Linked DNA regions of Homo sapiens. The protein of the gene in region 2 interacts with the protein of the main gene of each other region in a biochemical or structural test. Each region holds a gene or a part of one and is shown on either strand. Other genes may lie near its edges.

Evidence for each region.
Region 1: the proteins of COPS5 (region 2) and RAB18 form a complex in vitro, tested with the Homo sapiens proteins (one study listed by BioGRID).
Region 3: the proteins of COPS5 (region 2) and BRSK2 form a complex in vitro, tested with the Homo sapiens proteins (one study listed by BioGRID).
Region 4: the proteins of COPS5 (region 2) and RAD1 form a complex in vitro, tested with the Homo sapiens proteins (one study listed by BioGRID).

Annotation. Positions count from the first base shown.
Region 1 is NC_000010.11:27,535,304-27,538,803, forward strand, and holds part of RAB18 (ras-related protein Rab-18), read left to right. Parts: intron 1-2,572; coding exon 2,573-2,748; coding exon of another isoform or gene 2,749-2,788; 3' UTR 2,789-3,500. UniProt on the Homo sapiens protein: The small GTPases Rab are key regulators of intracellular membrane trafficking, from the formation of transport vesicles to their fusion with membranes.
Region 2 is NC_000008.11:67,052,134-67,055,633, reverse strand, and holds part of COPS5 (COP9 signalosome complex subunit 5), read left to right. Parts: intron 1-3,500. UniProt on the Homo sapiens protein: Probable protease subunit of the COP9 signalosome complex (CSN), a complex involved in various cellular and developmental processes.
Region 3 is NC_000011.10:1,448,934-1,452,433, reverse strand, and holds part of BRSK2 (serine/threonine-protein kinase BRSK2), read right to left. Parts: intron 2,659-3,500; coding exon 2,598-2,658; intron 2,214-2,597; coding exon of another isoform or gene 1,848-2,213; coding exon 1,640-1,847; intron 1,064-1,639; coding exon 1,015-1,063; intron 1-1,014. UniProt on the Homo sapiens protein: Serine/threonine-protein kinase that plays a key role in polarization of neurons and axonogenesis, cell cycle progress and insulin secretion. Phosphorylates CDK16, CDC25C, MAPT/TAU, PAK1 and WEE1.
Region 4 is NC_000005.10:34,909,005-34,912,504, reverse strand, and holds part of RAD1 (cell cycle checkpoint protein RAD1), read left to right. Parts: intron 1-692; coding exon 693-951; intron 952-3,148; coding exon 3,149-3,247; intron 3,248-3,500. UniProt on the Homo sapiens protein: Component of the 9-1-1 cell-cycle checkpoint response complex that plays a major role in DNA repair. The 9-1-1 complex is recruited to DNA lesion upon damage by the RAD17-replication factor C (RFC) clamp loader complex.

The DNA.
Region 1 (3,500 bases), on a different chromosome or scaffold from region 2:
TTTGTGGCCCAAGACTATTCTTCTTCTTCTAATGTGGCCCAGGGAAACCAAAACACTGGACACCCCTAGTCTAGAGGGAGATCATCTCAGGCTGAGAGAGGAGCAAATATTTCCTGAGGTGGGAATCAGGCTACTGTGTTAAAGGAACAGGAAGAAAGCGTGTGTACTGGAGCATAGAGTGTGTTAAGGAGAAGGCAGATGGTGAGAGATGCCATTCAAATGGTAAAGAGATGGATTGTATTCCAATTGTGGTGGAAAGTAGGGAAGCAGCGGTGTGACCTGATACTCTAAAAAGATCCTGTTGTGTAGAAAATGGACTAGGGGAAACAGAAGCAAGAGACTAGTTCTTCTCTTGCAGTGGCCCAGATGAAGGAAGAAGCGGTTTGACTGTGTAGCCGTAGAGGGTGGTAGAAAATTGGCAGTTCTAGGAGATACAGTGAAGGTATAGCTGACAGGATTTGTGGGTGGATTGGGTATGGAGGATAATTAAAAAGAGCAATCAGGCGGGTGCAGTGGCTCACGCCTGTAATCTCAGCACTTTGGGAGGCCGAGGCAGGCGGATTACGAGGTCAGGAGATCGAGACCATGGCTAACACGGTGAAACCCCGTCTCTACTAAAAATACAAAAAATTCACCGGGCGTGGTGGCGGGTGCCTGTAGTCCCAGCTACTTGGGAGGCTGAGGCAGGAGAATTGCTTGAACCTGGGAGGCGGAGCTTGCAGTGAGCGAGATCACGCCACTGCACTCCAGCCTGGGCGACAGAGCGAGACTCTGTCTCAAAAAAAAAAAAAGAGAGCAATCAGAGATAACTCCATGTTTTAGGCATGAGCAGTGAGGTAGATTGTGCTGCCAATAATTAGGATGTGAAAGATTGAGATAAGAGCAGGTTTAGGGTAGGGAAGTGAGGAATCAAGAATTTCACTTTGACATAAGAATGAGACATTTTTCCGATAACCGGTGGACATGGTGGTCATTGGCATTTAGGTGGCATTCAAGGTCATGTGATTAGAGTGGTGACTTCAGGAAAGAACGTGGATAGAAAAGGGCTGAAGAAGCCTGGGCAACATAGTGAGACCTCATCTCCAAATAAAATCAGCTGTGTATAGTGGCATGTGCCTGTGATTCCAGCTGTTCTGGAGGCTGAGGTGGGAGGATCACTTGAGCCTGGGAGGCCAGGGCTGCAGTGGAGCTCCCACTGCACTCCAGCCTAGGTGACAGAGTGAGACCCTGTCTCAAAAACAAAACAAAACAAAGAAAATGGCAGAAGATTGAACCCTGGGGGATTCCAGCAATTAGAGGTCAGCAGAAAGAGGAAGTGCCAGCAAACAAGGCTGCACATGACATGTCAGTGGGCTCAGAGGATTTTCAGGCATGTTCAGTGTCCTGGAAGTCAAGGGAACAACTTGTTTAAAAGAAGAGGAAGTGATTAGCAGTATCAGATACCAAAGATGTCAAATAAAATTAGGATATTGGATTTGACAAGATAAAGGGTGTTGGTGGTCTTGGAAAAGAATGATTTCAGTGGAGTGGTGGGAATGAAAGCCTAATTAGAGTAGTTTGAAGAAAGAACGTGAGATAAGAAGGTAGAAACAGCTTATGTGGATAACTCTTTAGAAGAGGTTTCAAAGAGAGTGGAGAAATGGGTGGCTACAAGAAGGGCATGTGGCCTAGAGAGCAAGTTTGTTTTTTAATAGGATGGAAAATAATTCGGCAGACTTTTAGGCTGATTGGTATGATCCAGTAGAGAGAGCGTTTGGTCCTTCGGTGAATGAGAAGGGATGGGACTCCAGGAACAAAAGAAGGCGATGGCTTGGATAGCAGCAGGGACAGTTTATCCATTCTCACAGGAGGGAAAGCAGAGCATGAGGATACATATGCAGGTAGCTTGGTAAATTTATTAGTGGGATGATCAGGCAGTTCTTGCCAGATTGCTTCTGATTTTCTCAGCATAATGCAGCTAGATTATTAGCTGCGATAGAGTTTTGAGAGGAAGGAATAAAGTACTCATCTCAGACGGTGAGAAAGATCATCACTAAGGAAACGCAGGGTTGGAAGCAGTGCTGAGTGTCCAGTTGAGTTTCATGAGCAAACATTTGCTGTGGGACCAGTTTTCATGGTGGTTTGTCATTTTGTCCAGCTGCCTGGAGCTGCTTGGTTGAAGGCACAGAATAATCAGATTAATTGTTTAACTTGTATGAATTTCTTTATTTTAAAATAGGAATAATATCTGCCTTGGGAGCAAGTTGTAAGAGTTAACTGAAAGCTTAAGGAAAAAACTTTCGCTCGCTATTTAAGTAGGGCTTTACAAGTTACAATTCTATCACAGTTTTAAGATTATAAACCAGTGTTTTTTTGGTATAAAATTATATACTAGTATTCTTATGGATAGAATTTAATTAGCTCAATTTTGAGATTTGGAAATTCACTAGTTATTGACCTTTGGGGAAAAATTGCTGATTTGGATCTTAATATATTGTAGGCTGATATTTATGCCCTGATAGTTTCCCAGAAAAACATGAGAATATGGCCAGAAAGGAATATACTATGAATGACCTTTTTCCTTGAATTTCAGAGGCAAGTGCAAAAACCTGTGATGGTGTACAATGTGCCTTTGAAGAACTTGTTGAAAAGATCATTCAGACCCCTGGACTGTGGGAAAGTGAGAACCAGAATAAAGGAGTCAAACTGTCACACAGGGAAGAAGGCCAAGGAGGAGGAGCCTGTGGTGGTTATTGCTCTGTGTTATAAACTCTGGGAAATTCCATCTCTTGCATATTTGATCAGATAGTGACATCTTTCTGTATATAAACTCTTTAACTGCTATTTTAGGGACCTTGCAGTTTGCACATAATTGTTTTATATCATAGCAGTAAATATTTGCAAGAAATCCCACTCATCGACCCCGGGTAAAATGTTATGGTAAGCATGCACAGTTTGCAGTCTACAGTTTTTTTATGTAGCACAAAATAGGTGTACCTTTATAAGTACATTCAATTTTATGATTTACATTTATCATGTAATTTTTAAAAAAATCCATCTATCTAGGATATGTTGATACAAAGTCTGCTTTTGCTATTCTTTTTGCTTAAATACTCCTATCATTTTCTGAATTACTTGGTATTTAGAACTCCTAGCACCACGGGGAAGAATAGAGGTATCATCAAACGTGGCAAATTTTCTTTCAGGAATAATAAAGAGCATGATTCCACAGCTTTTCTGGGATGTTTGAGATTCTTTTTTAGTACTAAGCAAAATTCTCATCACAGAATGTAGCCCAGGCCAATTTATAACTAAATCTCTATTTGTTCGGATGATGCTTCTAAAACAGCATTGATAGGTTAAAGAAGCTTGGTATTTTTAATTTACTTCAATGATTAGCTCAGTTGCTTAACTGGAGTTTTAATCCTGTGATATGTACATTGGATTCATGACTGTGCAGCATTTTTAGTTATGTGGTGTTTGGCAGAATGACAATAAGGTTTTCCCCCATTTTGGTTTCA
Region 2 (3,500 bases):
GGCCTCCCAAAGTGCTGGGATTACAGGTGTGAGCCACTGTGCCCGGCCTACGTACCTTTTTTGATGGTGAATTTTATGATGTATGAATTATATCTTAAATTATTTTAATGTTAAAGAAGCCAATGGGGACAGTTTTCTCTACCTTCTAAATATATCTCACCACCTCTTTTACTATCCTTTTCACCCAAGCCACTGCCATCTGGAGCCCCAATCAAGCACTTGCCTTCCGGCGAGTCTTTCTACTTGTGCCCTTCACTTCTTAAAGCTCTGTTTTCAGCCAGACTGATTCTGTTAAGATGTAAGCCGGATAATCCTCTTCCTTTTCAGAATGACTTCCCATCTTACCAAGAACAAGATCCTTAGTCCTTATCACAGACTGCACACCTCTGTGTGGTCTGGCTCCTACAGCCTCTGTGAGCTCATGTCCTATCACTGAACTTCTGCTGGTCTGCAATCCAGCCATATTGACTTCCTTATGGTTTGTAAAATGTGCCAGCAGGCTCATGGCTCAGAGCACTGGCACTTGCTGTTCCCTCTGCCTAGAACGCTCTTATTTCCATGTGGCTCACTAACTGCTTTAAGCATTGAGTATCTGTTTACAGGGTCGTGCTAACAGAAAATGTTCATTAGTTCATTAGGCATGATCATGGTGTAGTATTTTACCTATGTAAAGTAACACCTCTGTTTCCTCTTTCCCCGCTTTTTCTTCTTAGCACTGTAACCATCTGATATGTTTTGACATCTTTTTTTTGACCCCTTTAGAATGTGAACACAAATTTACTGCTGTATCCTTGGATTTAAAACAGGGCATGCCACATAGAAGAGGGCACCAAAAAAAATTGCTGCTTAAATGAATAAATGATTATCTACTGCCCTCTTTTTCTGTACCACTTATGCCAACTTCAAAGAATACTTTGGCTACCCATGTGCTACTACTGCTCTAATTTTTCTATTTAGAAGTTCTTAGAAAATTCTAGAATTTCTAAAATTAAATTCTTAAATATATGTGGTTTTCAATAATCTCTGACATATTTCTGTAAATACAATTCTCTTTTCTTCCTTTTTTTTGGTTCCTGTTTTTTTATTTCAGATGGAGTCTCACTAGGTTGCCCAGGGACTACAGGCACACCACTGTGCCCAGCTATAGAAACAAATATATATTCAGATAGAAGTTTAGTGTTAATTATTTAATTTGCCCTATTAAAAAGAATTTAAATGATTCCTGTTTGAGAGAATTGCTCCTAAGCCTGGAAATACCTTTGCTGTGATACTTTAATCTTCAGAGGAACTCTCAATTTTTTTTATTTATATTGAGTTGTATCAAAGGTTTATACTTCAAAACAAAAAAAGATTGAGACAGTTTATGTTTTCCGTATTCAAACAGATCTACTTTCCCTGTTTGTCTATTCCGTTAGTTTATCCTTCTGTCTTCCTTAAATAACTTTTTTTTTTAAGATCGTGTTGCGTACCAATCCTTAAATAACTTTCTTTTGGCAAACACCTTACCTTGCCACTCTGAAATATGAGCCTACCAAAGAGGGATAGCTACTTTGCTAGCGGCCTACATTGCTAAAGACTAGAATTTTGAACCTGGAATTGCTAAAATGTTCTTTTTTTTTTTTTTTTTTTAAATGGAGTCTTGCTCTGTCACCCAGGCTGGAGTGCAGTGGTGTGATCTCGGCTCACTGCAAGCTCTGCCTCCCAGGTTCACGCCATTATCCTGCCTCACCCTCCCGAGTAGCTGGAACTACAGGCGCCCACCATCATGCTCGACTAATTTTTTGTATTTTTAGTAGAGATGGGGTTTCACCGTCTTAGCCAGGATGGTCTCAATCTCATGACCTCGTGATCTGCCCGCCTCAGCCTCCCAAAGTGCTGGGATTACAGGCGTGAGCCACCGTGCCCGGCCCAAAAATGTTCTTTGTGTGTGTGTGTGATGGAGTCTCACTCTGTCACCCAGGCTGGAGTACAGTGGTGCCATCTCGGCTCACTGCAACCTCCGCCTCCCAGGTTCAAGCGATTCTCCTGCCTCAGCCTCCCGAGTAGCTGGGATTACAAGCACACACCACCACACCCAGCTAATTTTTGTATTTTTAGTAGAGACAGGGTTTCACCATGTTGGCCATGCTGGTCTCGAACTCCTGACCTCAGGTGATCCACCTGCCTCAGCCTCCCAAAGTGCTGGGATTATAGGCGTGAGCCAACACGCCCAGCATGATGTGTTTAATTTATTATGTTTTATTTCCTCACGCTAAACTTTAATCCGTAAGCATTTTTGCACTTTGGGAGTCTGAGGCGGTGGATCACTTGAGGTCAGGAGTTCGAGACCAGCCTGGACAACATGGTGAAACCCTGTCTCTGCTAAAAATACAAAAAATTAGCTGGGCATGGTGGTGGGCGCCTGTAATCCCAGCTACTCGGGAGGCTATGGCAGAACGATCACTTGAACCTGGGAGGCAAACGTTGCAGTGAGCCCAGATAGCACAACTGCACTCCAGCCTAAGTGACAGAGTGAGATTGCGGCTCAGAAAAAGCATTCTGTTTTTAAAAGGGTGCCTATGTGTCTTTATCTTTCGCACCACTAACCTCTGAGTCTGAACCTCTGTCTCTTCTCATCTTCCCTGCTGCAGTGGCTTCCTTTGTGGAATCCCTGCCTCCAGTTTCTCTCCTGTAATATCTCCTAATGGTACTATAAAACACCCCTTTGACTGTATTATTACTCTACTCAAGTACCTTCCATTCTACTCAAGCACCTTCCAAGAGTCCCGGGTATCTACAGGATAAAGTTTAAATTTCTTTTTTTTTTTTTTTTTAAGACAGAGTCTTGCTCTTGTTGCCCAGGCTGGAGTGCAGTGGCGCGATCTCGGCTCACTTCAACCTCTGCCTCCCGGGTTCAAGCGATTCTTCTGCCTCCGTCTCCCAAAGTTTGGCCGAGCACTGTGGCTCCCAGCACTTTGGGACGCCAAGGCGGGCAGATCACCTGAGGTTGGGAGTTCAAGACCAGCCTGACCAACATTGTGAAACCCCATCTCTACCAAAAATACAAAAATTAGCTGGGCATGGTGGAGGGAGCCTGTAGTCCCAGCTACTCGGGAGGCTGAGGCAGGAGAATCGCTTGAACCCGGGAAGCAGAGGTTGTGGTGAGCTGAGATTGTGCCATTGCACTCCAGCCTGGGTGACCAAGCAAGACTCTGTCTCAAAAAAAAAAAAAAAATTCTTAACCTTTTGTGTAACATCCTTCACCACCTAGACCCCAGCATAGCTTTCTAGCTTCCCCTCACATAATTCTTCTCTTGCTAAATTTTCCAGCTAAACCCATTGCCTTATTATCTCTTACATGTCTTTCCTTTTTGTGTGTTGATGCTCTCTGCCTAATGCCCTCCTTGCTCTCCACATATCCATACCATAGACTCAAAAATGTTTACCCTACACCTTGCCTTTTCCCTGAGGCTTCTCAGGCAGTTCTAGCTTGAGCTCCTCTATATGAAGAATACTTATTA
Region 3 (3,500 bases), on a different chromosome or scaffold from region 2:
TTGGTAGCAGCAGAAACGGCAATGTCAGGGCCTAGGCGGAAGGTTCCCAAGTCTGCTGAGCCCTGTGCATCTGGGCTTGCGACAATACCTACACACCTCCGACCTGGGCACCCAGCTGGAAGGGCCACCTGATCGGCGCAGAAAGGCCACTGGGTGGAATCCTGGCACAGGCTGCAGATGCTGCTCCTGGGGCTTAGCACTGAGCAGTTTCCACAGGGGCCCCTGGTTTAAAGCCAGCAGCAGGACGAAGGTTCTCGTCTTACTCAGTCCACAGCTGGCCACATCTTCATTTCCCGGGGTCTCCTGTGAAGTGACTCCAGCCTGACCGCCGCTCTCTGCCGCTGCCTGGCCTGGGGTCACGCTGCAGGCTCATATGTGTACACCGCCAGTCGCCTGGTCTCCGAGACACTGCCCAGTGACTGAGGCCATCGTGGAGAGGAGGGAGAGGGCCTGGGCGCTGGGAAGGGGTCTCTCTGGGGACATCTTTGTCCAGACACCAGTCACAGCGGCCCCCAGGGCATCTCAGCACCTGGGCGCTGTAGAGTCTCTGCAGTGGCACCTCTCACGGCTCAGAAAGGCGGCGGGGCCAGACCTCGGCTTGGCTGCTCCGCTCCGCCCCTGCACACGTGTTCCCACCAGGCCTGCTGCCCCTTTGTTCTTAACACGGGCTGCTTTCTCCTTGAGACCTGAGCGACCCGGTCTCTGCCCTTGGCGAGCTCAGGCCCTGGGGAGACTCTGCCCAGTGTACCCCCTGCTCGCCTCCAGCCAACCCTAGGCTCTCCCAAGGCCTGAAGCTTCTCAACAGGGCTGGGGGCTCCTCCCCTGGCTGGCCTTCCCCTCACAGCCGGGAATTCGAACTTCAGAGACTCAGTGGCCGAGACGGGCCTGCCTGCAGTGGGAGGTGGGGCCACGTGGAGAAGGAGCACCCCGTTGGCCATAGGGGAAGGGTTCCATGCCCCTCTCCCGGCCAGCCTGGTGTCAGGTACCAGGAGGCCTCCAGCAGGGGCCACTTACTCTGGGGACGACTCTGGTGTCAGGTTGGACATCTCCTCCGGCGTCGGAACTGTGCACACAGGATGAACAGGAGGAAAGGCGTGGTGACCGCTCCATCCTTCCCCTGCCCTGGCCACCTTGCGCCGAGGTCAGGGTCATCAGGAGTCCACCCACACACACTGGGACAGCCCCCCCAGGGGCACTGGTCCACCCCAGCTCCCGGCCACCTTAGAGGCCCACTGGCAGTGGCGCCCCCCAGGCTAAGGGGAGCTGTCCCCGCCTCTGGTGCTGAAGTCGGCTGTGCCTTCTCCAGCAGCACTGGCTGGCCCTTGGTGCCCCACACATGGGGCCTCCTGACTGGCAGTGCCCCCTCGGTGGCCAGCTCTCCTTGCTGTGTGCCTGGCCCCAGGACACAGAGTGGGTAGACTCAGGAACACAGAATGTCTGGAGGGGATACCAGCCTGTGCGACAGGTAGGACACAGGCTGCTGCTGGGCGCTTTCGGGACAGTGAGACGTGGGCAGGCCCAGGCCACCCCTGCAGCTACAGGCCCCTCGGACTGGTCTGGCACTGCCGGGCGGGGCCCTCCCCAAGGCAGCCTCTGCTCTCTCCCAGCCCCACTCTGGCGCCTCCGGGCAGACACTCACCTTGCAGTTTCCGGCGGTGGAAGCGGGGTGAGCCCAGAAAGCTGTTCTTGATGGAGTTGAGCCGCGCCCTCCAGGGCACCCCTCCGACGCTGGGGCTGGACGGGGGCGTGGGGTTGGGCGTGCCAGCCGGGCTCTCCTTTGGCGTGTGGACAGGTGTCCCCTTGGGGGTGGGGAGGGGACTGCCCCTTGGTGAGGGGTGAGGGGTCACCTGTATGGTGGGGACAGATTTGGTGTTTGGTTCAATCCCGGCGGGTGGGGGCCGGGGGGGCACCCGCAGGGCAGGCGGGCCCAGGGGTGGTGCCAGCTGGGGACAAAGGCCAGTGGCGGGAGGCCGGGCTGGGGTGCTGGCCGGGAAGGGGTTGGACTTGGTGCCCTGCAGAGGCTTGTCGGTCAGCTTGGCCTTGCACGGCAAGGTCTGGGTCTTGGGGTCGGGCCGCAGGGCGGCCTGCAGAGGGAGGACGTGTCCAGGCCTCGAGGCGCTCCCACAAGCTTCGGGCTCCGTGGAGGTGGCCAGGGGGCGGGCCACGAAGGGCGGCTCGGGGGGCGGTGGGGGCAGGACAAGCTTCCTAATAGGCTACGGGGAGGCGCAGGGAGCGAGCGGGGTGGGGGCAGCCGCGCGGCACATGCACCCCAGTCCCCCGCATGCACACGGCACAGGAGGACCAGAAAGAAACAGGCGGGAGCGGGAGGGTGGGGAGGCAGGCAGGCATGGGCAGGAGGATTAGCCACAAAAGAAAAGAAGTGACACACAAGAAAACAAACAAAACAAAACAAAAGAGCGTGCAGTTAGCAGAGCAGCCTGCGCCACAGAGCAGCAGCCGCCACAGGAGCGTGGGCATGGGGGGCGCCTGGGGCTGCTTCCCAGGGTCCGCGAGGCTGCCCCCACCCTGGCACACGCTGACTGGGAGGGTTGGGGCCTCTGTGCATCCGAGCTGGGTGGGGGCGGGGGGTCACTCACCCGGGGGCTGCTGAGTGGGCTGGTGGAAAGGCCTGAGGAGGCACCGCTGATGGACCGAGACCTGGAGGTCACAAGGTACAGGGCCACTGCTCAGCCAGGGGGCAGTGGAGCAGCAGGTGCTGGGCTCTGCTCCCCCCAGGTAAACCCTCCAGGAGGCCTGGAGCCCGGGCCAAGAGCCTCGAGGCCCTGGGTCCTGCTGCACACCCTGTCAATTCAGGAGGGCCCAGGGCGCCTGGCTGTGCCCAGCCCCACTGGGGCCCCCATCAGAGCCCACGTGTGGGGGCCACCCCATGCCAGCAGCCCAGGCACAGCACAGGATACGGCATCAGACAGCCGCGGCAAAGGACCATCCAGCGTGGGGGTGGACGGAAGGACGAGGGGACAGACGGGAGCTTCCTGTATGCAGCCCCTTCTGCTCCAGGCCTCGTGCTGGCTCCAGCCTCCCACCTGCCAAGCCCCCCCTGGCTGAGCTCTCACAGGGCCTGCAGCCTGGTCCTCCATGTCCCTAGATGCCCGTGAGGGATGCCTGGGTCAGCGGCCGGCCCTTCCCTTGTCCACAACCAGGAGGGCCTGGGCAGGGCCAGGCTGGGGCAGCTGCTGGCAGGGACGGTGGGGCCTTGTCCCACCACTGCCCTACTCAGCCTGAGACCTGCACACAGCAGGAGGGAGGCCCTGGCCCGGCGTGCCCGGCTGAGACTCCGGTGTGTGGCCGCCACCCCCGTGCAGGGACCAGGACGGCTGTGCGTCGTTCCACCACACTGCACGGACGAGCCGGCGCCCACGTGCCCAGACAGTGGCAGCTGCCATCCTTGGAGGAAGGAAATGCAGGGAGGGGCCGAGGCAGCCGCCGAAGAGAAGAGGACAGAGAAGAGTAAAAGCCCGGCCTGCACTACCCACCAGGCC
Region 4 (3,500 bases), on a different chromosome or scaffold from region 2:
TAATTATACATTTTCTAATACAGTGTTCTCCAGCTAGTTTTTCACAGAAGCATCTGTCATCTTCCATTCCTCACTGTGGCTCTCAATCCAGTAAGGAGAAGGAGTTTGAATATCCTGTCATATTCCTCCTTCCCTCTAGTGGTTTGCAGAGTTAAAATTTACACCACCATTAACAACCCTCTTTTTCTCTCAATTTGATTTTTAAATTCGAGGAAATATAAAGAATATCTCCCAGTTGGAAAAGTTGGAAGGATCCTTGTCATAGTGAGTACACTGACGTTACAGTACAGATGACAGCAATCCACTGTTACACACATTGAACCTTCAAGGAATAGCATACCCTGTTCTGCAGCAATTTAGTTACTTGCTGTGTTGATCCATATAGATTCTCTACCCTGAAATTGTACATATATAAAATCAACAAGCTATTTCTGAGGTGTGTATGACAACCTGAAAATGATTCCAAAGAATTATGTTACATTTTGTTCTGGTTCCCAATTTTCTTGTAGTTTTGGAATTCTCTACACACAACTGTCATCAGGGAAGATGTCATCCCTTTTTATGAGGAGATACATATATGTGAGAAATTGGGCGGAATAAATTATTCTTGAGAAATTTTATGTATCATTTCGAGGAGAAGCTGAACCCAGAACTATAAAGCTAAGGCCAAGTATGACTTCTTTCCATTGCAGGGACTTTAACTGCACTTCGAATGTGTTACCAAGGTTATGGTTACCCTTTGATGCTGTTCCTGGAAGAAGGAGGAGTGGTGACAGTCTGCAAAATCAATACACAGGAACCTGAGGAGACCCTGGACTTTGATTTCTGCAGCACCAATGTTATTAATAAAATTATTCTGCAGTCAGAGGGGCTCCGTGAAGCATTTTCTGAATTGGATATGACGAGTGAAGTCCTACAAATTACCATGTCTCCTGACAAGCCTTATTTCAGGTACTTGAGAGCAGTGCAGTTATAGTTAATGTGGTCTGTACTCCATCTTCCCACTTAGACATTTGCTTAGGATGCAAAATTTTTATTATCCACATTTTTAGAGTTTTCACAACTTTAGACAGCTTGTACTCTTACCTCATAATTTTATGGATCAAGAAACTTAAGACCCAGGAAGATTAACTCACTATTTCATATTTAGGTGGTGGTGGCATCTAGATGAGAAGCCCAGTCCTCTAATTTATAAACTGGTGGTGTTTTCATTGTACTACTCCTTACTTTCATAGATCAGGTTACATCATGAGGAAAATTGGGTTTAAGTGTTTGGAAAGGGTGTTTGTATTATGGTATCTTTTTCAAGTTAGTTCAGGATGCAGAAGAAGATGTTTTCTACACGTGGCTCATTCATTCACTAAGTATCTGTTGATCACCTACCGTGTGCTTATTCATCTTATTAAGCATTGTGGGAAGAACAGCTTAAAACCAAGGTGAAGCCAAGAAAATGTGAAACAGCAAACCATTAAGTACCAAGATAGCACACACAGATACCTGGGAAATGCTGTATAAGGATTTAGGGAGGATTGCTCAAGGCTGGCTTCCCAAGGGAGGGCAGTTTTCAGCAGGAGTACAATGTCAAAAAAGCTGTTCTTGATAGTTTAACACAAGTCTCTTTTCAGGATTAGACTCAGAGATTCTAGCAATTTAGAGAGAGGATCTAAATATTCTCTTTTTGAAATATTTCAGAATATTAAAGCCCCTAAATACATATGGAATAAAAGGAATAAGGTATTCTTTTTGTAACTACTTTAGAAGAATTACAGGCCCGGCTGTAAAAGTGCTGTGGCAGACACCTGTAATCCCAGCACTTTGGGAGGCCGAAGTGGGCAGATCACTTGAGGTCAGGAGTTCAAGACCAGCCTGGCCAATGTGGTGAAACCCTGTCTCTACTAAAAATAGAAAAATTAGTTGGGCGTGGTGGCACGTGCCTATAATCCCAGCTACTTGGGAGGCTGAGGTGGGAGAATCACTTGAACCCAGGAAGTGGAGGTTGCGGTGAGCTGAGATTGCGCCACTGCACTCCAGCCTGGGTGACAGAGTGAGAATCTGTCTCAAAAAAAAAAAAAGAAAAGAAAAAGAATCACAGGCCCTTGTCATGACTTTGGGGAGTTAAAAATTTGGCTCAAGGTCTGAGAAAGTTAACCAAAATGGAAATTGGAAACCTTACTTTAGCAGTGGAATGAAGTAAAAAATTCAGGTACTTAAAACAGTATTTCAGGGGATCTCCTCAGTGATCTCTCTCAGCCTGGGTAACGAGATGGACCATGGTATCTTTCATCTCCAGGATGGGAAACAATTTGGTGGTAGGGAGGTAGGAGTTGAAATTTTTTCCTGGATATGTTAAATTTTAAGTACCTGCGACACTAGGGAGTGGCTGGATATGTAGTTATGGTGCTCAGGAGATCCATTTAGACTGGAAATTTAGATTTGGGAACCATCATCATGGCTGGGTATGGATGAGACGGGTCAGAGAGAGAGATTATATTAGAAGAAAGAAAAGATGGACCCCAGGAAAACCACACCTGGAAGATGGGAGGCAGAAATGGAGCTTAGGGAAAACCAACCTGGATCTTATCGCCATGCTCATATAATACTTAGCAACGTGCTAATCCTGCAGCAAATGTTCCAGGAGTTCTTGCAAATTAAATCAGCATGTTAACACTTATAAATTGTCTACAAATAACTTCTGGTATTACCAAGTGAGGAAAACCATGCAATAGCCTTAAGAGCAGTCTAAGATACAGAAAAGCTGTAATTCCTAGGTGTAGGATTGGGAACAGACCTAAGGGTTGCAGTAGACTTAGATCAAGGTCTTCCATGAGTCCTCAATTCTCTCGCCTGTTATATATTTCTGACTTAAGGATGAGGAAAAGTCATTTTCAGAGTAGGATTAGGGTAATGAAATTAAAGTGTCCCCTACCCTTTTCCTTTTACAATTGATTTTCTTCAAACCCATTGATTAGTTGTCCTGAACTCCAGTGGGAGCTTTATTATGGTACTTGTTATCGTGTGTTATAAGCATTTGTGTACATGTCTGTTTCACCCACTAGTATGAATTTCTTAAGGAAGTGTTTTCTTTATTTGGATCCTAATGTGGTTTATTTTTGGATGAATGAATAAATGAGGTAATCATTTTCTATAGGTTATCTACTTTTGGAAATGCAGGAAGTTCCCACCTTGACTATCCCAAAGATTCTGATTTGATGGAAGCATTTCATTGTAATCAGACCCAAGTCAACAGGTCAGTTCTTAATATAGAGGTTGTCATTGGTGATAAAGAGGAGGTTAAATACCAGATTTCTGTTAAATAAAAACACTTTCAATCTGTTAATTAAAATGCACAGCATTTTATAAAAATGAATAGTAGAGTGCTGGACTTACTAGGGGATGTAGGGTTCTAACAGTGAATGAATTTTAAAACAGAAAATATTAGCAAATTGGATAAGTACTTGATTTTATTCTTAGATTTGCTACTTTTTATCCTTTACTTGGGA